Homo sapiens: one gene and its partner. The protein of the gene in region 1 interacts with the protein of each later gene in a pairwise test. Each region holds a gene or a part of one and is shown on either strand. Other genes may lie near its edges. The genes, in order: GOLGA3 and SRR.

Region 1 (11,569 bases):
AAAATCGAGACCATCCTGGCTAACACAGTGAAACCTTGTCTCTACTAAAAATATGAAAAATTAGCTGGGCGCGGTGGTGCACGCCTGTAGTCCCAGCTATACCAGAGGCTGAGGCAGGAGAATCGCTTGAACCCGGGAGGCAGGGAGCCGCGATCGTGCCACTGCACTCCAGCCTGAGAGACAGAGTGAGACTCCGTATTACTAACAACAACAACAACAAAAAAATGGAACATGGTGGCTGGGAACTCAAAAACTACATACAAATCAGGGGCTGCAGCCGGGTACAAAAAGAACAGAAGTGGTGGGAACTAGGGCAAAATATGGAACTAAGATGGGATAGTCAACACCAGCAGCTCGATTTGGCCCCCAGGATTTCCCTGAAATGCCCAGCCTAGTCCTCAATTCAGAGAGGCTGTGGAGACTAAGTAGCTGAGTGAGAACCAGGTCAGGGTTCAAGTCCCAGTTCTGAATTGTGTGAACCTCTTGTTAAGTGCCCCCTACAAACAATGTCACCGTCTGGGACTGGAACTCAGCCACACCCACATGGAAGGTCTACCCCTCAACTAAGCAGGTCTGCCCCCCAACTAAGCAGGTCTGCCCCCCGACTAAGCAGGTCTGCCCCTCAACTAAACAGGTGAACTGAGCACACGCAGGGGCTCCAGCCTCACCTCAGAGAGCCCAGCCCTGCACCAACAGCTGGGGACTCAGGGCTGTGGGTCACCCAGACCCCTGAGCCTGTTCCTCCCCTCGGAGAGCCCAGCCCTGCACCAACAGCTGGGGACCCAGGGCCGTGGGTCACCCGGACTCCTGAGCCTGTTCTCTCGGCTGCAGGCCGGGTGGGCTAGGAGTCAGCACAGGTGACTGAATCTGGATGAGATTCTCGGAGTGCGCACAGCCCCACCAACTCTCACACCGTTGCTGGCGTGAGTTTGACGAGTTTGAATACCTGAAGGTTCAACTGGACTAGGTCTGCCTCCCTCTTGGCCAAAGCTGTTTCTAGGATGCTGTTGTGTTCCCGCAGAGCTGCGTTGGACTGACCGAGGCCCGTAAGCTTCCCTTTCTCGTGCTCTAATTCAAGAGCCAACTTCTTGTTTGACTCCTCAAGGCGTTTTATCTTCTTCCTAAAGCCTCTGGATTCTTGAAGCTGAAACATACCAATGTCACTGTAAAATTACCTGCACTGGTGAGTGGAGTTCACATACCCCAGAAACAGGTGAGTTTTCAACAAGAAACAGCGAAAACTTAGGCCAGGCGCAGAGGCTCACGCCTGTAATCACAGCACATTGGGAGGCCGAGGCAGGGGGATCACCTGAGGTCAGGAGTTTGAGACCAGCCTGGCCAACATGGTGAAACCCCGTCCCTACTGAAAATACAAAAATTAGCCACTATCGTGGCACATGCCTTTAGTCCCAGCTACTCAGGAGGCTGAGGCAGAAGGATCGCTTGAACCCAGGAGGTGGAGGTTGCAGTGAGCTGAGATTGTGCCCCTGCACTCCAGCCTGGGCAACACAGCGAGACTCTGTCTCAAAAAAAAAAAAAAAAAGAAAAAGAAAAGAAAAGAAACATCGAAAACTAAAACACAGCAATGGGCTGGACGCAGTGACTCACACCTGTAATCCCAGCACTTTGGGAGGTCAGGGGTTTGAGACCAGCCTAGCCAACATGATGAAACCCTGTCTCTACCAAAACTACAGAAATTATCCAGGTGTGGTGGCGATCACCTGTAGTTCCAGCTACTCAGGAGAATGAGGCGGGAAAATCACTTGAACCTGGGAAGTGGAGGCTGTGGTGAGCCAAGATTGTGCACTCCAGCCTGAATGACAGAGTGAGACTCTGTCTCAAGACAACAAAAACAAAGAACAATGGACACCACACAACCCTGCGATGGACACCACAGGACCGTGCTTGCTTCATGATCTGAAGGCTGTCGTGGTCATGGTCAGTTGCTTCCCCAGGCCCCTCTCATTCCTCCCCATGGCCAAGAGCCCAGCCTTCTCCTGGGGCCATGGGCTTCTGGAGAAGTCTGTCCAGGCACTGAGCCCTGGCTAGGCCACTCAGCAGGGTGGGCATGAGCAAAACCACTTCAGGGCAGGACACAGCCAGAGAGTGGAACAGGCGGCCCTACTGTGACGGAGCTCCACAGGGAGGGGCTGGGGAGTGGGGGGCGCCGGGACACTGAGCTGCCACCAGCAGCGCTGAAGCGAGAACTGTCTCTGAACCTGAGATATCTGACGTTTTTCTTTTTTTGAGACGGAGTCTCACTCTGTCGCCCAGCCTGGAGTGCAGTGGCGCGATCTTGGCTCACTGCAACCTCCGCTCCTGGGTTCAAGCGGTTTACCTGCCTCAGCCACCCAAGTAACTGGGACTACAGGCACCCGCCACCACACCCGGCTAATTTTTGTATTTTTAGTAGAGATGGGGTTTCACCATGTCGGCCAGGCTGGTCTCGAGCTCCTAACCTCATGATCCGCCCACCTCAGCCTCCCAAAGTGCTGGGATTACAGGCATGAGCCACTCGCCTGGCGAAGTTGGGTTTCTTATTTGCAACCAAAGCATTTGAACTGAGAAGGGTTCCACTATGAATTCTGTAACCATTCCACCAAAGAGGCTGTACAGTGATCCTCCCCAGAGGGCTGGAATCAGGGCCTGCCCCACCACAGAGCCAGAGGCCGACGGTCAGAAGGTGGCAACACCAAAAGTAGCAACGCTGGGCACACGGTGAAGTTTTGTTCTTCGGGTCTCACGCGTGGCGGCATGTCCAGGGCTCACGTGACCTGCCCCACGCTGCCGCCACAGCAGATGGCCAGGCCTCACCTCGTCCTCCAGCTCCAGCACCTTCTCCCGGGACTCCTCCAGCTCCTGGCTGGTCAGCGCTATGACCTCCTGCAGTTCCTTTTCCAGCAGCGTCTTGCTATGACTGACAGCCTGCAGCTCCGCCTCCAGGGCCTGGATCCTTTCCTAAGGGCCAAGATGGAACGGGCGCTTGGTCATGGGACAGGCCCTGACCCCCCTCACTTCCTGTGGTGCCGGCAGGCATGAGGCTGTGTGGCTGCACACACCAGACACCAGCTGTCTGACACAGTCTCACAACCTTCCTTTTTGTTAAAGAAGTTGAATTAACCGACCACAGCATGCACACGATGACACACGGGGATAGTTGGGACAAACAAAATCATCTCTTCAGTTCAATGCTTCAAAAATACAGAAGAAAATCTGACCTGCAGATAATGGCTATAAATCACCATCTGTGGCAAGCAAGCAGCACCAGTTGTAATAAATACCACACACATGCTCACGCACCACACATCACATACACACACTCATGTAACACACACCACGTGCACATGTTCACATCCCACACACCACACACACACGTGCTCACACCCCACACGCACATGCTCACACCCCACGTGTTCACACCCCACACCACACATGCACATGTGCTCACACCTCACACTGCATGCACACATACACCCCACACTGCATGCACACATATGCTCACATCCCACACACCATGCACACAAACACTCCACACGCTGCACACACACATGCTCACACCTCACACATGCACGGATACATGCAGGCACAGGTGTGCTCTCACACCCCGCCCACTTGCTGCCTCGATGGTACCAGGCCCTTGCCAAGCATGTTCCAGTACCACCTAACTTAACCCTTACATGAGAAGGTTCTCATTCACCTCAATTTGGCCTCATTTTGCTGAGGATCAAAAAGGTGAGAAATTTGCCAAAAGTCACCACTTGCGAGGGGTGAAGCCCGGACGGACACAAGACATCGGCTCGCAGCTGTGCTATTCCTCAGCTGCAACAGCGTGGCGAGGGGCCAGCTCTGCCCGGCCTTTGCGACCTCCCCACCCCAGCCCTTAGTGAGCCCAAAGAAAATGGCAACTGAATCAATCTCCCCAACATTTTACAAAGCAACCAGGTGAGAGGAAGCACTTGATTTATTTATTGAATTTCAGACACAGAGTCTCTATCGCCCGGGCTGGAGTGCAGCAGCAAAATCATGACTCACTGCAGTTTCAGCCTCACCTCCCAGGCTGAGGCGATCCTCCCACCTCAGTGTCTCAAGCATCTGTGTCCACAGGCACGTGCTACCATGCCTGGGTTTTATTTTTGTATTATTTGTAAATACAGGGTCTAATTATGTTGCCCAGGCTGGTCTCAAACTCCTGTGCTCAAGCGATCCTCCTGCCTCAGCCTCCCAAAGCGCTGGGATTATAGGTGTGAGCCACCGTGCCCGGCCGAGTTTATTTGACAAGAAAACCCCACGTTATGATACAGTCTCTTCCTACCCATAAATTCTTAAGTGGACAGGAGATAGAAACAAACCACATATAAGAAGAAATACTAAGTTGTCAGTGCAAGGACGTGAATTGGAGAATAATAAATAAAATGCGGATGAACTCACTCAGGTAGAATGTTATGCCTACCACGAAAGGTGACAGAGCACGGAGGGCCACGGCCTCCACGGAAGGCTCTGCTCAGAGCCCTCCAGAAAGGGCACCCGCTTGTTCTGGGCCACCGCAGCATGGCTACCTCTAAACGCTCCCTGAACCCTGTCAATCGCTGACCCCATGCCCTCACTCCTGCTTCTCAGTGAGTGCGGAGGCTGCTTTTCCTCCTGAGATGCGAGGAGGCGCAGAGGCAGCTGGAACGCGAGCGGACCAGGGCAGGCCCTCCCTCTGCCCCAAGGGAGCAGCTGAACTTCTCTGAGCCAAGGAGATTTCTTGAGGAAAATCAGGTGAACGCCACAGGCCACAGGCCATGTGGGGTTCATGAGGGAGACGCGAGGCAATGCTCAGTCACTGTGGGTTCCTGGTAACCTGGAAGATGAGCGGGAGTTTAGAGAGTTGCCACCTCCCACGCGAGCTCGGCCCCGCTAGGCTTTAGGGGACAACTGCTGATGGAGAGCCCTTCCCTGCACTGAGGGGCTGGTGACCCTGGCCGGGGATGGCACGGTGTTACCTACATGTAGAGCCAGGCTGCTGTCACTGCTGCCACCCTGGGCTCGGAGCTGGCCCAGCTCCGCGTCCGCAGCCTCCTTGGCCGCGAGGGCCTCCTGCAGGCGGCGGCTGAGGATGCCCACGGCGTTCTCGTAGGCCTTATGTTTGGTCTTCATCTCCTTCTGGGCGCTGGTCAAGTCTGAGCCCAGCCGCCTCATCTTCTGCTTCTGTTCCGTGATGGCCCTGGGGTGTCATGAGGGAGACACAGGAGGAAGCTGAATTATCCCGATGTGACCGTCTGGCATTCTGGTTCGCCTCCCCCCCGGCCCCCGCACCTCCCACCTGGCCCCCGCACCTCCCCCGGGCACATGCAGACTTACTTCCGGGCCTCTTGCTGCAACTCTTCGATTTGTTTCTTCAGCGCCTCATTGGCCTCTGTGACCGCGACCATCTGCTCCTTATCGAACTGCAACGACTGTGGAAGGGAAGGAGGGCGTGAGGAGCGGCACTGCCACCCCCAGCCTGTCTCCCCTTCCTGGCTCCAGCCCATCACCCCCACCAAAGGCACTGCTCAGGCTCGCCCTGGAGGACTTGGGCCTTGAGAAAAATCCTGAGAGAGACGTCTGCCTTCTTACAAACCACTCTTTTTTTTTTTTATTGAGATGGAGTCTCACTCTGTCACCCAGGCTGGAGTGCAGGGGCGTGATCTCAGCTCACTGCAACCTCCGCCTCCCAGGTTCAAGTGATTCTCCTGCCTCAGCCTCCCGAGTGGCTGGGACTACAGGTGCCCGCCACCATGCCCAGCTAATTTTTGTATTTTTAGTAGAGACAGGGTTTCACCATATTGGTCAGGCTAGTCTTGAACTCCTGACCTCGTGATCCACCTGCCTCGGCCTCCCAAAGTGCTGGGATTACAGGTGTGAGCCACTGCACCCGGCCACAAACCACTCATTACTGAGACCAACAAGCGTTTCCAAACACTGTCCAGAGCATCAGAGGCACAACAGGACATGACTGGTTCATAGGAAAGCCTGTGGACCCAGGACCTCTCCTCCAAACCCTCAGGACCCAGGACCCCTCCCCAGGGCCCCAGGAACCCTCCCCAAGGCCTAGGACCCCTCCTCAAGGATCCAGACCCCTCCTAGGAAACCCCAGGACCCCTCCCCAAGAGCCCCCGGGAACCCTCCCCACAAGCCCCTGGATCCCCTCCCCACAGTCCCCAGACCCCTCCCCCAGAGCCCCCAGGACCCTTCCTGAGACCCCGGGACCCCTCCCCAGAACCCCTGGGACCCTTCCCCGGAGACCCCGGGACCCCTCCCCGGAGACCACGGGACCCCTCCCCGGAGACCCCGGGACCCCTCCCCGGAGACCCCGGGACCCCTCCCCGGAGACCCCGGGACCCCTCCCCGGAGACCCCGGGACCCCTCCCCGGAGACCCCGGGACCCCTCCCCGGAGACCACGGGACCCCTCCCCGGAGACCACGGGACCCCTCCCCGGAGACCCCGGGACCCCTCCCCGGAGACCCCGGGACCCCTCCCCGGAGACCCCGGGACCCCTTCCCGAGACCCCAGGACCCTTCCTGAGACCCCAGGACCCTTCCCTGGACCCCCCCCGGATGCCCTCCTCAGGATCAACTGTGAACACTGAGGGCCGCGTCCCCGACCTGCTCCTGCCCTCGCAGCCTTTCCCCAGCTCCTGTGTGCGAGGCGAGTCCCCACAACCAGCCCAGGCCTGCAGCTGTGGGGTCCGAACGTGCTCTGCCCGCACTGCTGAGTCCTCCAAGCCTCCTACAGTCCAAAGAGCCGGCCCTCCCCTTGGCCCACCTCCCCACCCCGGCACCAGCGCTAATCCATCAGCCCTCACTTTCCAACAATGATGGTGCCGGCCACACCGCCTACTCACAGGCCTCAGCCTGGCTCCTAATGAGCCAGACATGCTGACCAATCTGCCTGCTGGGACCTTGGCTCGGTCCTCTCCGGCAACTTCAGAAACTTCATAAGCAAAACGTAGCACTTGGTCTAACGTGCCATCAGACGACTCTCCCCAAATTTACTGTTGCTCTCCTGATTTCTCGTCTCACCTCCCGGTTCCTCAGCCTGGATGTCTGGACAGGATCCTGGACTGCGGCCTCCGTCCCCCGCCTCTACCCCTCACCTGCTCTGCTACCTGCAGCCGAGAAACTGTCACCAGCATCTCGGACACCCACTGTGTGCAGAAGCCAGCCCAGGCTCAGCTTCCACAGGAACATGACTAGCTCTGGTCAGTCCCAGCTCCGCACTCAGCCACGAGGGACTCCCAGGGTCCCCGGGCCCCGACGCCCTGCCCTGACGTGGGGTCTCCACAAAACACTCACCCTTGCTTTCTGCATGACAGCCGCTGTCCTCTCACATGCTAGATCCCGGGAGCCCATGGCAATGGGGAGAAGCTGGGTGCCTCACGGGGCCTCCTCACTCCCTCCCTTCATGCACCATCACCACCTGGACTTATCAGGCCTCACCGGACTGCCCCTCTGGGACCTATGCTCCAGGTGGGCCTTGTTCCCAGCTGTTCTTCCAAAAGCCTCTCCCACCTTGGCCCCACCCCAGACACAGGCCCCGACCCAGACAGACCCCGCCCCAGACACAGGCCCCGCCCCAGACACAGGCCCCACCCTCCCGACAAGCACTTTGGCCGAATCCTCCCCATCAAATGAGTCAACCCGACACGGACAGACCTGCAAGTGTGTTTCCATCTCGTCTCGCTCCTTCTGCGCCGACTGGAGATGCCCTTCAAGGTCCGCCATGTGCTGACGGACCTGGGCCACCTCTCTGTGCAGGCGCGAGAGCTCCGCCTCGGCAGTCCGCTTCTCCCCGTGCACTTGCATCAGCTCCTGCCGCAGCTCCTTCAGCTCCGAGTCCAGCCTCTTCCTGGTGGCTTTCAGCTCACTGATGAGCTGGTCTTTGGAGGTGGCGTCGCGCCGGTAGGCCTCCACCATCACCTGCCAAAGACAGAGGCTGTGAGCGGACGCTGGGCGGCGGGGCGTGGGGGGCGTACCTGGGGGTCAAGCTGGCTTCAACAAAAATGTTTACCACTTATCGGGGGCATAACTTTTTTGAGGTAAAGATACATTTCATCAAATCTAAGACTCCATCGACTGAGACACACCACTGTTTATCCACAGGTGACATCACTGCCTGTTGAGAGACTGCGTGGTGCACAAGGCAGTCACACCGGCCTCATAGACGTCTCCTCTATTCCAAGGAGTCTGGCTCTCTCCTGACTTCAGTTGCACGGCTTTGCTTCCAACAGGTAATCCCCTTGCTTGTGGCTCAGTAATAAAGCAAAGCAGGACTCACGACACCGCTTCAGGGGCCGCCCTTGCTCAGAAATAAAATACAGCAGGCCGGGCGCGGTGGCTCACACTTGTAATCCCAGCACTCTCAGAAATAAAATACAGCAGGCCGGGCGCGGTGGCTCACACTTGTAATCCCAGCACTCTGGGAGCCCGAGCTGGCTGATCACCTGAGGTCAGGAGTTCAACCAGCCTGGCCAACAAGGTGAAAACCCCATCTCTACTAAAAATACAAAAAACTAGCCAGGCGTGGTGGTGCATGCTTGTAGTCCCAGCTACTCACGAGGCTGAGGCATGAGAATCATTTGAACCTGGCAGTTGGAGGTTGCAGTGAGCGGAGACAGCACTACTGCACTCCAGCCCGGGCGACACAGCCAGACTCTGTCTCAAAAAAACTAAATTACAGGCCGGGCGTGGTGGCTCATGCCTGTAATCCCAGCACTTTGGGAGGCCAAGGTGGGCGGATCACGAGGTCAGGAGATTGAGACCATCCTGGCTAACACGGTGAAACCCCGTCTCTACTAAAAATGCAAAAAAAAATTAGTCGGGCGTGGTGGCCGGTGCCTGTAGTCCCAGCTACTCAGGAGGCTGAGGCAAGAGAATGGCGTGAACCTGGGAGGCGGAGCTTGCAGTGAGCCGAGATCGCACCACTGCCCTCCAGCCTGGGGTACAGAGCGAGACTTCATCTCAAAAATAAAATAAAATAAAATACAGCAGCGCTCACAACGCTGCTTCAGGGGTCACCCTCGCTCAGAAATAAAACACAGCAGCACTCACAATATAGCTTCGGGGTCACCCTTGCTCAGATCCCATAAAATCCAACAGGAGGTACTGGCTTCACTGACACAAAATTTATATTCCGTGTCTTTTTGGATAACCAAAATTTGTTTCAATGCTGGAACTCTATGTGCATTTTTCAAAGACATTTTAAATGGCAAACCCAACCTGTGTGTTAACAACACTGCACAACACACAGCTCCCTGGAGTGAGCACAACAGGGTATGCTGACAGGCGCTCCAGTGACAGCCGCCCCTGGAGATCTGAGGGGCCAAGACCCCCACCCCACTGTGGAAGTGTGTCTTGACTTTGCAGATTAAGTACCTTTAAAAAAAGTTAAAGAGGGCCGGGCGCGGTGACTCATACCTGTAATCCCAGCACTTTGGGAGGCCGAGGAGGGTGGATCACCTGAGGTCAGGAGATTGAGACCATCCTGGCTAACACGGAGAAACCCCATCTCAAAATACAAAAAACAAAAAATTAGCCGGACGTGGTGGAGGGCGCCTGTAGTCGCAGCTACTCGGGAGGCTGAGGCAGGAGAATAGCTTGAACCCGGGAGGCAGAGCTTGCAGTGAGCCAAGATCGCGTCACTGCACTCCAGCCTGGCTGACAGAGAGAGACTCCGTCTCAAAAAAAAAAAAAAAAAAAAAAAAAAAAAAAAAAAAATTTAAAGAGAACTCAAGATGTTACCTTCTTCTCAACTTCAATGACATTGGAATTGCTAAGCAATTAAACCACAGAAAACTCTGTTCATATGCTTGTTTCAAGTGAAGAAATCAACAACAGATTTTTACCTTTTGTTGGAGAAACTGTTCCTTTATTTTTTGCATTTGCTTTTTCAGAGCAGCAGTCTCCTGCTGCAGGTGTTCCACCTGTGGGAGACATGTGCACAGACATTACACTGACGGCTCCAGGAGGGGAATCTGTCTGCACAGATGTTACACTGAAGCCTCCAGGAGGGGAACACATCTGCACAAATGTTACAGAGAGCTCCAGGAGGGGACACATCCTCACAGATGTTACACTGAGGGCTCCAGGAAAGGACACATCTGCAGAGATGTTTCACTGAGGGCTCCAGAAGGGGCCACATCTGCAGCGATGTTACACTGAGGGCTCCAGAAGGGGCCACATCTGCAGCGATGTTACACTGAGGGCTCCAGGAAAGGACACATCTGCAGAGTTGTTACACTGAGGACTATAGGAGGGGAATGTGTCTGCACAGATGTTACACTGAGGGCTCCAAGAGGGGGATGCATGTGCATGAATATTACACTGAGGGCTACAGCAGGGGGACACATCTACACAGATGTTACACTGAGGGCTCCAGGAGGGGCCACATCTGCAGAGATGTTACACTGAGGGCTCCAGAAGGGGCCACATCTGCAGCGATGTTACACTGAGAGCTCCAGGAAAGGACACATCTGCAGAGTTGTTACACTGAGGGCTCCAGAAGGGGACACATCTGCAGAGATGTTACACTGAGGGCTCCAGGAAAGGACACATCTGCAGAGTTGTTACACTGAGGACTATAGGAGGGGAATGTGTCTGCACAGATGTTACACTGAGGGCTCCAAGAGGGGGATGCATGTGCATGAATATTACACTGAGGGCTACAGCAGGGGGACACATCTACACAGATGTTACACTGAGGGCTCCAGGAGGGGGATGCAACTACACAGACATTACACTGATGGCTCCAGGAGGGCACACATCTGCACAGATGTTATAGGAAGAAGCACTTGTGTTCTGACGGGAACTGGTGGTTCCTAAGGCCTGGGCTCTCCCTCCTCACCACTGACAGCATGAAGGCACAGTGAGTGGCAGGGAGGTGGGAGAGGGGATGAGGCCAGGGGACACTGCAGCCCAGGGCTCGGCAAGCCTTTCTTGGAGATGCCTGATGGGAAAAGACTGCAGCTCACAGGCTGCACGTCAGTCACAGCTGCTCAGCAATGCTCTTGCAGCACAGGCGAGCGAGCAGGGCTGTTACAGTGACAGTTTACAGAACCCGGTGTTGGGCTGCGCCCACAGGCTGAGGGTGCTGACCCCAGGCTCTGGTCCTTGTCCTGCAAAGTCTGTTGGAGCCCAGCCCATTCAGCCCAGGAGCTTGTGAGAAATGCAGAGCCTCGGGCCCCACACAGACCCACCGCACAGGACCTGCACTCAGAGGGCTCCACACAGACCCACCCCACGGGACCTGCACTCCGAGGGCTCCACACAGACCGACCGCACGGGACCTGCACTCGGAGGGCTCCACACAGACCCACCACACGGGATCTGCACTCGGAGGGCTCCACACGGACCGACCGCACGGGACCTGCACTCGGAGGGCTCCACACGGACTGACCGCACGGGACCTGCACTCGGAGGGCTCCACACGGACCCACCCCACGGGATCTCCACTCGGAGGGCTCCACACGGACCGACCACACGGGACCTGCACTCGGAGGGCTCCACACAGACCCACCACACGGGATCTGCACTCGGAGGGCCCCACACA
Region 2 (11,569 bases), on another chromosome or scaffold:
CCTTGGTATGGATAGTAGCTTGATGACATGGAATTCAGGGAAAAGACTATGATGGTGTCACTTGTAACTGCTTTTGTGCTGTAAAATTGTCATGGATTAAGAAGAGAGTTGGCTGGGTGCGGTGGCTCACACCTGTAATCCTAGCACTTTGGGAGGCCAAAGTAAGGACTGCTTGAGCCCAGGAGTTCCAGACCAACCTGGCCAACACAGCAAGACCCCATCTCTTAAAAAAAATAAAAATATTAGAAATAATAAATAGGCCGGGCGCAGTGGCTCACGCCTGTAATCCCAACACTTTGGGAGGCCAAGGCGGGTGGATCGCAAGGTCAGGAGTTCAAGACCAGCCTGACCAACATGGTGAAACCCTGTCTCTACTAAAAAAAATACAAAAAAATTAGCGGGGTGTGGTGGCTCATGCCTGTAATCCCAGCTACTCAGGAGGCTGAGACAGGAGAATCGCTTGAACCCGGGAGGTGGAGGCTGCAGTGGGCCAGGATCGTGCCACTGCACTCCAGCCTGGGCAACAGCGAGAATCTGTCTCAAAAAATAATAATAATAGTAAATAGAGTAGTGAGGCAGAGATGGGCCTTCATCTCAAGTCCCAAAGGAATAAGGGGAAGGAATGGTAATGTGTGCAGAATGTTGAGCACGTGTATACAGAACATTTAGGATGTAAAGTAAATCCTCTGCTTGAAGCAGGGAATCCTCCAGAAGCTGCTCACCTTAACTGTAATTGCTATTCCAGCAAGCATTCCTCCTCCACCTACAGGTACCACCAGTGCATCCACCAAAGGAACCTTTAGTGAAAATATAAACTGTAAGCAGTTTTATATTTAATGTATACATATAAAATAATTGAATATAGCCCAACAGCTTTACCAGTAGCTAAACAGGAAGAACTCAGCTATTTTACCTGGTTCAGCACTTCCAGGGCAATTGTCCCTTGTCCAGCTATCACTGCAGGCTCCTGGTTGGGATGTACCATGATGCCTTCTGTTTCTTCTGTAACTCTTTTTGCAACATTTTCTCTGGACTGAAAGTACATTAATTTAGCTTAATTGATTTGTATTTAATAGAGTCCCCAACAAGTTCCATTTGGTCATTCAGCATTTTATTGACCATCTACTTTTTTCACACTTTGTTCAGGTACTAGAGATATATATGTTAATAAAATATCCCTGCCCTCAAGCACGTTATATTGTATGGTAGAGATGGATGAAGTAAATATATGGTATGTCTAAGTGCAATGGAGTAAAATGAAGGAATTTATTTCATATAGGGTAGCCAAGAAGAGCCTCTAGTAAAGTGACATTTTAAAAGATCTGAACAAGTGCTGTGGATGTCTAGAATATTCCAGAGAGGGGGTAACAGTGCAAAGACTACAAAGTAGGAGTGCTTGGCCTTTCTGAGGAACAGCTAAAAAGGTTAGTATGGCTGGCACAGAGTGGGCAAGAGAAATAATAGAAGATGAGGTCAAGGCTGGGTGCAGTGGCTGACACCTATAATCCCAGCACTCTGGGAGGCCAAGGTGGGCAGATCACTTCAGGTCAGGAGTTCAAGACCAGCCTTGCCAACACGGCAAAACCCCGTCTCTACTAAAAATACAAAAATTAGCCAGATGTGGTGGCACGCGCCTGTAATCCCAGCTACTCTGGTGGCTGAGGCATGAGAATCTCTTGAACCCAGGAAGCGGAGGCTGCAGGGAGCTGAGAAGAAACTACCGCACTCCAGCCTGGGTTGGACAGAGTGAGACCCTGTCTCAAAATAAATAAAAAGAAGATGAGGGACCAGGCACGGTGGCTCACACTTGTAATCCCAGCACTTTGGGAGGCCAAGGCGGGCAGATCACGAGGTCAGGAGTTCGAGACCAGCCTGGCCAATATGGTGAAACCCTGTCTGTACTAAAGAATCAAAAATTAGCTGGGCATGGTGGCACGCGCCTGTAGTCCCAGCTACTCGGGAGGCTGAGGCAGAAGAATCGCTTGAACCCAGGAGGCGGAGGTTGCAGTGAGCCGAGATTGTGCCGCTGCACTCCAGCCTGGGAGACGGGGAGATTCTGTCTAAAAAAAAAAAAAAAAAAAAAAAAAGATGAGAGATGAGGTCAGAAAGATAGGAATGTTTGAGTTTATCCAGGGATTAGATGATTGCAAGAACTCTCGTTTCCACCGTGTATGAGATGGGAAACCAACAGAGGATTTAGACTTGAAAAGAGACAAGTTCTGGCCAGGCGTGGTGGCTCACGCCTGTAATCCCAGCACTTTGGGAGGCCGAGGTGGGTGGATCACGAGGTCAGGAGATCGAGACCATCCTGGCTAACACAGTGAAACCCCGTCTCTACTAAAAATAGAAAAAATTAGCTGGGCATGGTGGCAGGCGCCTGTAGTCCCAGCTACTCGGGAGGCTGAGGCAAGAGAATCGCTGGAACCCAGGAGGCGGGGCTTGCAGTGAGCCAAGATGGCACCACTGCACTCCAGCTTGGGCGACAGAGCAAGACTCCGCCTCAAAAAAAAAAAAAAAGAAGAGACAAGTTCTGACTTTATTAAATGGAGACCTCTGGTTGCTCAAAAAAGCCTGTAGTGTGGCAAGGGTGGATGCAGAGAGACCAGTTTGGCTACTGAATTGAATATAGGTGAGAATTGATGTTGGTTTGAATCAGAGTGCTAACGGTAGACACAGAAGCAGTTGGGTTATGGAAATATGTTGAAAGCAGACTGAGATTTGGATGTGGGGTATGAGAGGGTTATCAGAGAGGATTCCTGGCTGTGTGCAGTGGGTCATGCCTGTGATCCCAGCATTTTGGGAGGCCAAGGTGGGAGGACTGCTTGAATCCAGGAGTTTGAGACCAGCCTGGGCAACAGTGAGACCCTGTCTACAAAAAATAAAGGAATTAGGTGTGGTGGCATGCACCTGTAGTCCTAGCTACTCAACAGGCTGAGGCAGAAGGATCCCACAACATAGAAAGAGTCCATCTTTAACAACAACAACAAAAAATTTTCAAAAAAAGATGACTCCAACTTTTTTTTGAGTAACTAGAAGAATAAAAATTGCCATTTACTAAGATGAGGAAGACTGGAAGGGAAGCAATATAGGGAAGTAAGATCAGGAGTTTGGTTTTAGCTGTAGTTTGAGATGCCTTTTAAGACATCAAGTGGGAAAGTTAGGTAGCTGTTATATAAAAGTTGGCTGTTAAAGGGAGAGAAGTTGGAGTTGGTGTTGTTAGACCATAGGTAATAATTTAAGAAATGAGACTAATGAGATCTTGTGAGTGTAGATAGAGAAAAGGTTGAGCATGCTAACAGAAATAAAGGGGAAACCACAAAGGAGGCTGAGAAGGAGCAGCCAGTAAGGTAGAAAGAGCCATTGGTCAAATGAAAGCTGTTAAGGTGGTACCAAGCACTGCTCTCCTTACCTCATCACTAGGTTCACAGTATACAATTGACGCTCCGTAGGCTTGTATTGCAAGTTTTTTACAGTCTGGAGCTGTCTGGGGCACCACAATATAAGCAGGAATTCCTGGGAGAGGAAAACGAGAGGAAAAAGTCAGGAGAATTTAGAATAGAAACTTATGTGGCCAGGCACGGTGGGTCACACCTGTAATCCCAGCACTTTGGGAGGCTGAGGCAGGCGGATCACAAGGTCAGGAAATTGAGACCATCCTGGCTAACACGGTGAAACCCTGTCTTTACTAAAAATACAAAAAAAAAAAAAAAAAAAAAAAATAGCCAGGCATGGTGGCAGGCTCCTGTAGTCCCAGGCTGAGGCAGGACAATGGTGTGAACCCGGGAGGTGGAGCTTGCAGTGAGCCGAGATCCTGCCACTGCATTCCAGCCTGGGCGACAGTGCAAGACTCCGTCTCAAAAAAAAAAAAAAAAAAGAAAGAAACATGTTCAGCCAGGTGTGGTGGCTCACGCCTGTAATCCTAGGACTTTGGGAGGCCAAGGCGGGTGGATTGCTTGAGCCCAGGAGTTCGAGACCAGCCTGGGCAACATGGTGAAATTAGTATTTTGTATTTGTAAAATAGAAAAAATTAGCCAGGCGTGGTGGTGCGCACCTGTAGTCCCAGCTACTCAGGAGGCTGAGGCAGGAGAATCGCTTGAACCCGGCAGGTGGAGGTTACAGTGAGCCGAGATCGCGTCACCGCTCTCCAGCCTGGGTGACAGCAAGATTCTGTCTTCAAAAAAACAAAACAAACAAAAAAAAAACTTATGTTCATATTGCTTGCAATCAGATAGAGATTTCTTTGGAAAGTTACTTCCCACAGCTATCATCACTCTCACTGAAATTAAGGGCACTTTTCCACTCCTTTCTGAAGATCTACCCAGTACCTTGAGAAATCAAGTACCTTCCAATTTGGCAGCATAGGTGAGAGCCTGGCCATGGTTTCCACTGCTGTGAGTAACAACAGCTTTCGGCTTCCTTTCTAAAGCATCAGGAACCAAGCTTCTGACGGCATTGAGAGCACCACGAATCTGAAAAAGAGGGATGGTGAATTCACATATTTGATTAAAACATTGTTTTGGAAAGCAAGGAGCTTTTCTAGATTTTCTATCCTTAACATGCACATCCAATCTGTCACCAAATCTTATCGATTTACCTCTTAAATATCTCATGTGCATCTTTATTTTTTATTTTTTTGAGATGGAGTCTCCGTTATCCCGGCTGGAGTGCAGTGCCACGATCTCGGCTTACTGCAACGTCCGCCTCCCCACACTGCGTCTACCCCCAGGGCCGGGTTCAAGTGATTTTCCTGCCTCAGCCTCCCAAGTAGCTGGGATTATAGGCACCTGCCACCATGCCCGGCTAAATTTTTTTTTTTTATTTTTTTAGACCTAGTCTCGCTCTGTTGTAGCCCGGGCTGCAGTGCAGTGGCGCGATCTCGGCTCACTGCAAGCTCCGCCTCCCGGGTTCACGCCATTCTCCTGCCTCAGCTTCTCGAGTAGCCGGGTCTGCAGGCGCCCGCCACCACGCCCGGCTAATTTTTTTGTATTTTTAGTAGCGACGGGGTTTCCCCGTGTTAGCCAGGATGGTCTCGATCTTTTGACCTCGTTATCCGCCTGCCTCAGCCTCCCAAAGTGCTGGGATTACAGGCGTGAGCCACCGCACCCGGCCTTTTTTTTTTTTTTTTTTTTTTCCCCCGAGATGGAGTCTTCCTCTATCACCCATGGTGGAGTGCAATGGCGTGATCTCAACTCACTGCAACCTCTGCCTTCTGGGTTCAAGCAATTCTCCTGCCTCAGCCTCCCAAGCAGCTGGGATTACAGGTGCCTGGCACCAAGTCCCGCTCATTTTGTATTTTTAGTAGAAAGTGTTTCACCAAGGCTGGGTGCGGTGACTCATGCCAGTAATCCCAGCACTTTGGGAGGCAGAGGCGGGCGGATCACAAGGTCAGATCAAGAACATCCTGGCTAACACGGTGAAACCCTGTCTCTACTAAAAATTCAAAAAAAAAAAAAAAAAAATTAGCTGGGCGTGGTGGCAGGCGCCTGTAGTCCCAGGTAATCGGGTGGCTGAGGCAGGAGAATGGCGTGAACCTGGGAGGTGGAGCTTACAGTGAGCCGAGATCGTGCCACTGCACTCCAGCCTGGGGGACAGAGTGAGACTCCGTCTCAAAACAAAACAAAACAAAACAAAAAAGCGTTTCATCATGTTGGTCAGGCTGGTGTCGAACTCCTGACCTCAGGTGATCCACCTGCCTCAGCCTCCCAAAGTGCTGGGATTACAAGTGTGAACCACTGCGCCTGTCATATATTTGTATTTTTTGTAGACAGAGTTTTGCCGTGTGGCCCAGGCTTAGATCTTTTATATTGATAATGTATCCATGTGTAGCAAGTTGATACAGTGAATGCTTAAACTTGGGTCATATACAGAGTGATAACACTTTCCAATTTGCCTGCAACAGTTCAGGTGTCTGTTTAGATATTTCAGGTTGCTTCTTTCAGTCCCAAACATGTCCTAGTTTGGATAATAAATTATGTCTTAGTTTGGACAGTAAGTGATGGTATATATAATAAAGTCATGCTTTGCTTAAGGATGGGGATATGTTTCGAGAAATGCATGATTTGGCAATTTCATCATCTTGCATGCACCATAGAGTGTACTTATACAAATCCAGCTGTTACAGCCTATTACTCCTAGGCTGCAAACCCTGTATAGCATGTTACTGTACTGAATACTGTAGGCAGCTATAACACAATGAGAAGTATTTCTGTATCTAAACACAGAAATCGTACAGTAAATGTGTGGTATAACCTTATGGGACCAAGGACCACCATCATATAGGTGGTCTGTCATTGACTGAAACGTTATGTGGCATATGACTGTATTTTATGTATATATTATATATATGCACATACATATATATAAAAATTACTCGGATAAGTTATATATATTATCCTAATTATAAGGATTTATGACTGTGTAAAAGTTGCTTATCAACACTATGATGCTAGGTAAAACAAGGACTTGAAAGGAAAATTTCTGTAACCTTTTTTCCAGCTGTATAAAGGCATTAATTTACTTCTGCCTATCTCATTGGGTGGTCAGGAGAATCAAACTGATATGTGAAAGGGTGTGAAAACATACATGATACACTGAGAAAAAGGATTGTTACCTTAAAAGATCCTGTTTTCTGGAAGAGTTCACATTTGAAGAAAAGATTGCGCCCTGTTAGTTGATTCAAAATGGAGCTTGTTAGCACTGGTGTGAGGTGGATAGAATCTCGAATGTTGATATGAGCTTTTTCAACATCAGCAAAGGAGATGCAATACTGAGCACACATGGTTCTGAAACCCAGGAATAAGAAAGGGGTCAAAGCAAAGTCTGAGACAGTATGTTTATTGAAGAGATTTTGAAAATACGTAACAGAATAGACCTGGGGCCTGTGGTGTCATGTGGAAATTCTCCATTATTGGAGTGTCAGAATTTCCCTAAAAGAGAGTTGACTTAAAAGCTGAACGAAGTTTTTCTGGTGAAGCTTTGAGGGAAGTAACTGATGGTGATTACAGAAGGCTAAAGCCCACTCCCCACCCACACCACCCATCTCTTGGCACTGTTGGCACTGCCACTGGTCTCCATCTTCCTTTTTTTTTTTTTTTTTTTGAGACGGAGTCTCGCTCTGTAGCCCAGGCTGGAGTGCAGTGGCACAATCTCGGCTCACTGCAACCTCCGCCTCCCGGGTCAAGCAATTCTCCTGCCTCAGCCTCCCGAGTAGCTGGGATTACAGGAATGTGCCATCGTGCCCAGCTAATTTTTATATTTTTAGTAGACACGGGGTTTCACCATGTTGTCCAGGCTGGTCTTGAACTTCTGACCTCGTGATCCGCCTGCCTCGGCCTCCCAAAGTGCTGGGATTACAGGTGTAAGCCACCGTGCCCAGCTCCACCTTTCTTTTAATCATCGTTGTGAAGCTACTTGAATGAATTGGATTCAATTTTTATATTATTTTTAATTTATAAATTTAAATTTTTAATTTTTAATAAAAATTTAACAAATTATTTGATAAAGAAAAAATAGCTAGACTATTCCATTTAAATAACTATGTTCATTTTCTTTATTTCCCTCTGCATTTTCTTTTTTTTTGTTTTTTGAGATGGTGTTTCACTCCTGTTGTCCCGGCTGGAGTGCACTGGTGCAGTCCTGGCTCACCACAACCTCCACATCCCAGGTTCAAGCGATTCTCCTGCTTCAGCCTCCCGAGTAGCTGAGATTACAGGCATGCACCACCATGCCCAGCTAATTTTTTTTTTTTTTTTTTTTTGAGACAGAGTCTCGCTCTGTCACCCAGGCTGGAGTGCAGTGGCGCGATCTCGGCTCACTGCAAGCTCCGCCTCCCGGGTTCACGCCATTCTCCTGCCTCAGCCTCCCTGGTAGCTGGGACTACAGGCACCTGCCACCATGCCTGGCTAATTTTTTGTATTTTTAGTAAAGACGGGGTTTCACCGTGTTAGCCAGGATAGTCTCAATCTCCTGACCTCGTGATCCGCCTGCCTCGGCCTCCCAAAGTGCTGGGATTACAGGCGTGAGCCACCAAACCCGGCCAATTTTGTATTTTTAATAGAGACGGGGTTTCTCCATGTTGTGCAGGCTGGTCTCGAACTCCCGACCTCAGGTGATCCGCCTGCCTCAGACTCCCAAAGTGCTGGGATTATAGGCGTGAGTCACTGCGCCCGGCTCCTTCTGCATTCTCAATATACATTATGTAACAGTTAAAGCAAACATTTTATTTGCTCCTACATTTGACTCAGTTTCTTTACAATTTTCATAATTTTCAATAACTACATTAAGCTTCCACTTTCCACTGTGTCTATTGTAGCAGTTAAATATGAAGTTTCTCTATTTTTCCTTATTACAAAAGAATCTATATTCATTAGAAAACTGAGTTAATCTGAAAATACAGAGATACAAAAAGAACATGAAAATAGCCACGAAACCTTCCTACCTAAAGACAGTTGCTATCCAGTGGTTTACCTTTCCAGGCCCAACTACATATGCAGACAAAACTCTTTGGTAGGTTTGGTAACTTCTTTTTTTGTCAGACAGTATTATGAATATCAATGAATCTCATAGGTGAGTACATTTATCAACATTTTTTTTTTGTTGTTTTTTTGAGATGGAGTTTCACTGTCACCCAGACTGAAGTGCAGTGGCATGACTGTGGCTCACTGCAACCTCTGCCTCCTGGGTTCAAGCAATTCTCCTGCCTCAACCTCCTGAGTTGCTGGCATTACAGGCGCCCACCACCACACCCAGCTAATTTTTATATTTTTCGTAGAGGCGGGGTTTCACCATGTTGGCCAGGCTGGTCTTGAACTCCTGATCTTAGGTGATCCGCCCGCCTCGGCCTCCCAAAGTGCTGGTATTACAGGCGTGAGCCACCACGCCCGGCCCATTTATCCAACTTTTTTTTTTTTTTTGAGAGAGTCTTGCTCTGCCGCCAGGCTGGAGTGCGGTGGCGCCATCTCAGCTCACTGCAACCTCTGCCTCCCAGGTTCAAGCGATTCTCCTGCCCTAGCCTCCCTAGTAGCTGGGATTACAGGCGCCTGCCACCACACCCAGCTAATTTTTTTATTTTTAGTGGAGACAGGGTTTCACCATGTTGGCCAGGCTAGTCTCGAACTCCTGACTTCAGGCAATCCACCTGGCTCAGCCTCCCAAAGTGCTGGGATTACAGGCGTGAGCCACTGCGCCCGGCTTTATCCAACTTTTAAAATGACTTAATAGTACTTCTTTTACAAAAATACAATAATTTAGCTGGGGGCAGTGACACACACTGGTAGTCCCGGCTACTTGGGAGGCTAAGGCGGGAGGCTTGCTTGAGCCCGGGAGTGTGTTATTATCACGTCTATGAATAGCCACTGTACTGTGGCCTGGGCAACATAAGCAGGACCCTATCTCTTGAAAAAGAAAAAATAATAATTTTAAGTTTACATAGCTCAAATGAACATTTGGATTTCCTTTTGTTGTTGTTGGCTGTAAGAATGATGTAATGAATAGCCTTGTTGCAAGATTTTTGTGTACCTCCGTCAGTCCTTAGGGTAGATTTCACCAAATGGTATTTTGTATCAAAAGGCATACATATTTCTAAGAAATCTGATACCCACTGCCAAACTGATCTCCAGAAGGGTCCTATATTACATCAATTTGTACTCCCAACAACAGTTTTGATGGAATGATGCCTCTTTTCCTTCATCCGTCCTATATCATTTTTATGTCAATTTAGTTATGTCTAGTAGTTGTTGTTTCTTTGAGACGGAGTCTTGCTCTGTTGCCCAGGCTGGAGTGCAGTGGTGGGATCTTGGCTCACTGCAACCTCCACCTCCCAGGTTCAAGTGATTCTCCTGCCTCAGCCTCCCGAGTAGCTGGGACTACCGGTGTGTGCCACCACGCCAGGCTAATTTTTTGTATTTTTAGTAGAGACAGGGTTTCACTGTGTTAGCCAGGATGGTCTCGATCTCCTGACTTCGTGATCCACCTGCCTCAGACTCCCAAAGTGCTGAGATTACAGGTGTGAGCCACTGTGCCTGGCAATGTCTAGTAGTTTTAATTTACATTAATTACTAGTGATTGAACATTTTTTTGTGTATCTTGGCCACTTGTTCTTTTCTCAGTCTTTTTTTTTTTTTTTTAGATAAGGTCTCACTCTGTTGTCCAGGCTGGTGTACAGTGGCTCAATTATGGCTCCCTGCAGCTTCAAACTCTTGAGCTCAAGTGATCTTCCCGCCTCAGCCTCCCAAGTACCTGGGACTATGACTGTGCACCACCATACCCAGCTAATTTTTTAAATTTTTATTTTAGTAGAGAGGAAGTCTTGCTGTGTTGCCCAGGCTGGTCTCAAACCCCTGAGCTCAAGTGATCCTTCCGCCTTGGCCTTCCAAAGTGCTGGGATTACAGGCATGAGGCACCACACCCAGCCTTCTTAACACACCATTTACTGACAGAATCCTTTTCCTCTGAAATGCTCTATTTATCAAAAATTAAATTTCTATGAATGGTTGGGGCTATTGTATTTTGTTCCATTGGCCAGACTGCCAATGTCTTTTCCTATTATATACTGTATTAATAAATTCTCCCTTGATTGCTCTAAAATTCATTGGCTTTTCTCACATATCAATTCTTTCAGGTGAACTAGAATTACTTTATCAAAGTTGCCAGAAATTCCATTGTAAAGATGTATAAATGAATTGGAGGCATTATTTATTTACTGAGACGGGGTCTCTTGTCGTCCAGGCTGGAGTGCATTGGCATGATCTCAGCTCACTGCAACCTCTGCCTCCCAGGCTCAGGCAATCCTCTCACCTCAGCCTCCTGAGTAGCTGGGACCACAGGTGCACTGTGCCACCACAAATACAAAAAACGTCTGTATTTTTTGTAGAGACAAGGTTTTGCCATGTTGCCCAGGCTGGTCTTGACCTTCTGAGCTCAAGTGATCCACCCACCTTGGCCTCCCAAAGTGCTGGGATTACAGGCGTGAGCCACCATGACGGGCCCGAAAACTCAATATTTTTTAATGTCAATTATGCCCCCTCGGCTGGGCACAGTGGCAGGAGGATTGCTTAAACCCAGGAGTTCAAGGCTGCAGTGAGTTATTGTACCACTGCAAGAGCAAGACCCTGTCTCTTAAAAACAAAAAAACAAGAGAACAAAAAATAGTTGGCTGGGCGTGGTGGCTCTTGCCTGTAATCCCAGCACTTTTGGAGGCCAAAGCAAGTGGATCACTTGAGATCAGGAGTTCAGGAGTTTGAGACCAGACTGACTAACATAGTAAAATCCCGTCTCCATTAAAAAAACAAAAATTGGCCGGGCGTGGTGGGTCACGCCTGTAATCCCAGCACTTTGGGAGGCTGAGGTGGGAAGATCACAAGGTCAGGAGATCGAGACCATCCTGGCTAACATGGTGAAACCCTGTCTCTACTAAAAATACAAAAAATTAGCCGGGCATGGTGGCGGGCACCTGTAGTCCCAGCTACTCGGGAGGCTGAGGCAGGAGAATGGCATGAACCCGGGAGGCGGAGTTTGCAGTGAGCCAAGATCATGCCACTGCACTCCAGCCTGGGTGACAGAGCAAGACTCT

The links.
Region 2: the proteins of GOLGA3 (region 1) and SRR interact in a two-hybrid assay, tested with the Homo sapiens proteins (one study listed by BioGRID).

What each region holds. Positions count from the first base shown.
Region 1 is NC_000012.12:132,781,350-132,792,918, forward strand, and holds part of GOLGA3 (golgin subfamily A member 3), read right to left. Parts: intron 9,945-11,569; coding exon 9,867-9,944; intron 7,942-9,866; coding exon 7,678-7,941; intron 5,439-7,677; coding exon 5,344-5,438; intron 5,207-5,343; coding exon 4,990-5,206; intron 2,959-4,989; coding exon 2,815-2,958; coding exon of another isoform or gene 2,677-2,814; exon of another isoform or gene 2,519-2,676; intron 1,145-2,518; coding exon 947-1,144; intron 1-946. UniProt on the Homo sapiens protein: Golgi auto-antigen; probably involved in maintaining Golgi structure.
Region 2 is NC_000017.11:2,310,770-2,322,338, reverse strand, and holds part of SRR (serine racemase), read right to left. Parts: intron 6,783-11,569; 5' UTR 6,779-6,782; coding exon 6,611-6,778; intron 4,470-6,610; coding exon 4,343-4,469; intron 3,514-4,342; coding exon 3,410-3,513; intron 1,034-3,409; coding exon 914-1,033; intron 798-913; coding exon 723-797; intron 1-722. UniProt on the Homo sapiens protein: Catalyzes the synthesis of D-serine from L-serine. D-serine is a key coagonist with glutamate at NMDA receptors. Has dehydratase activity towards both L-serine and D-serine.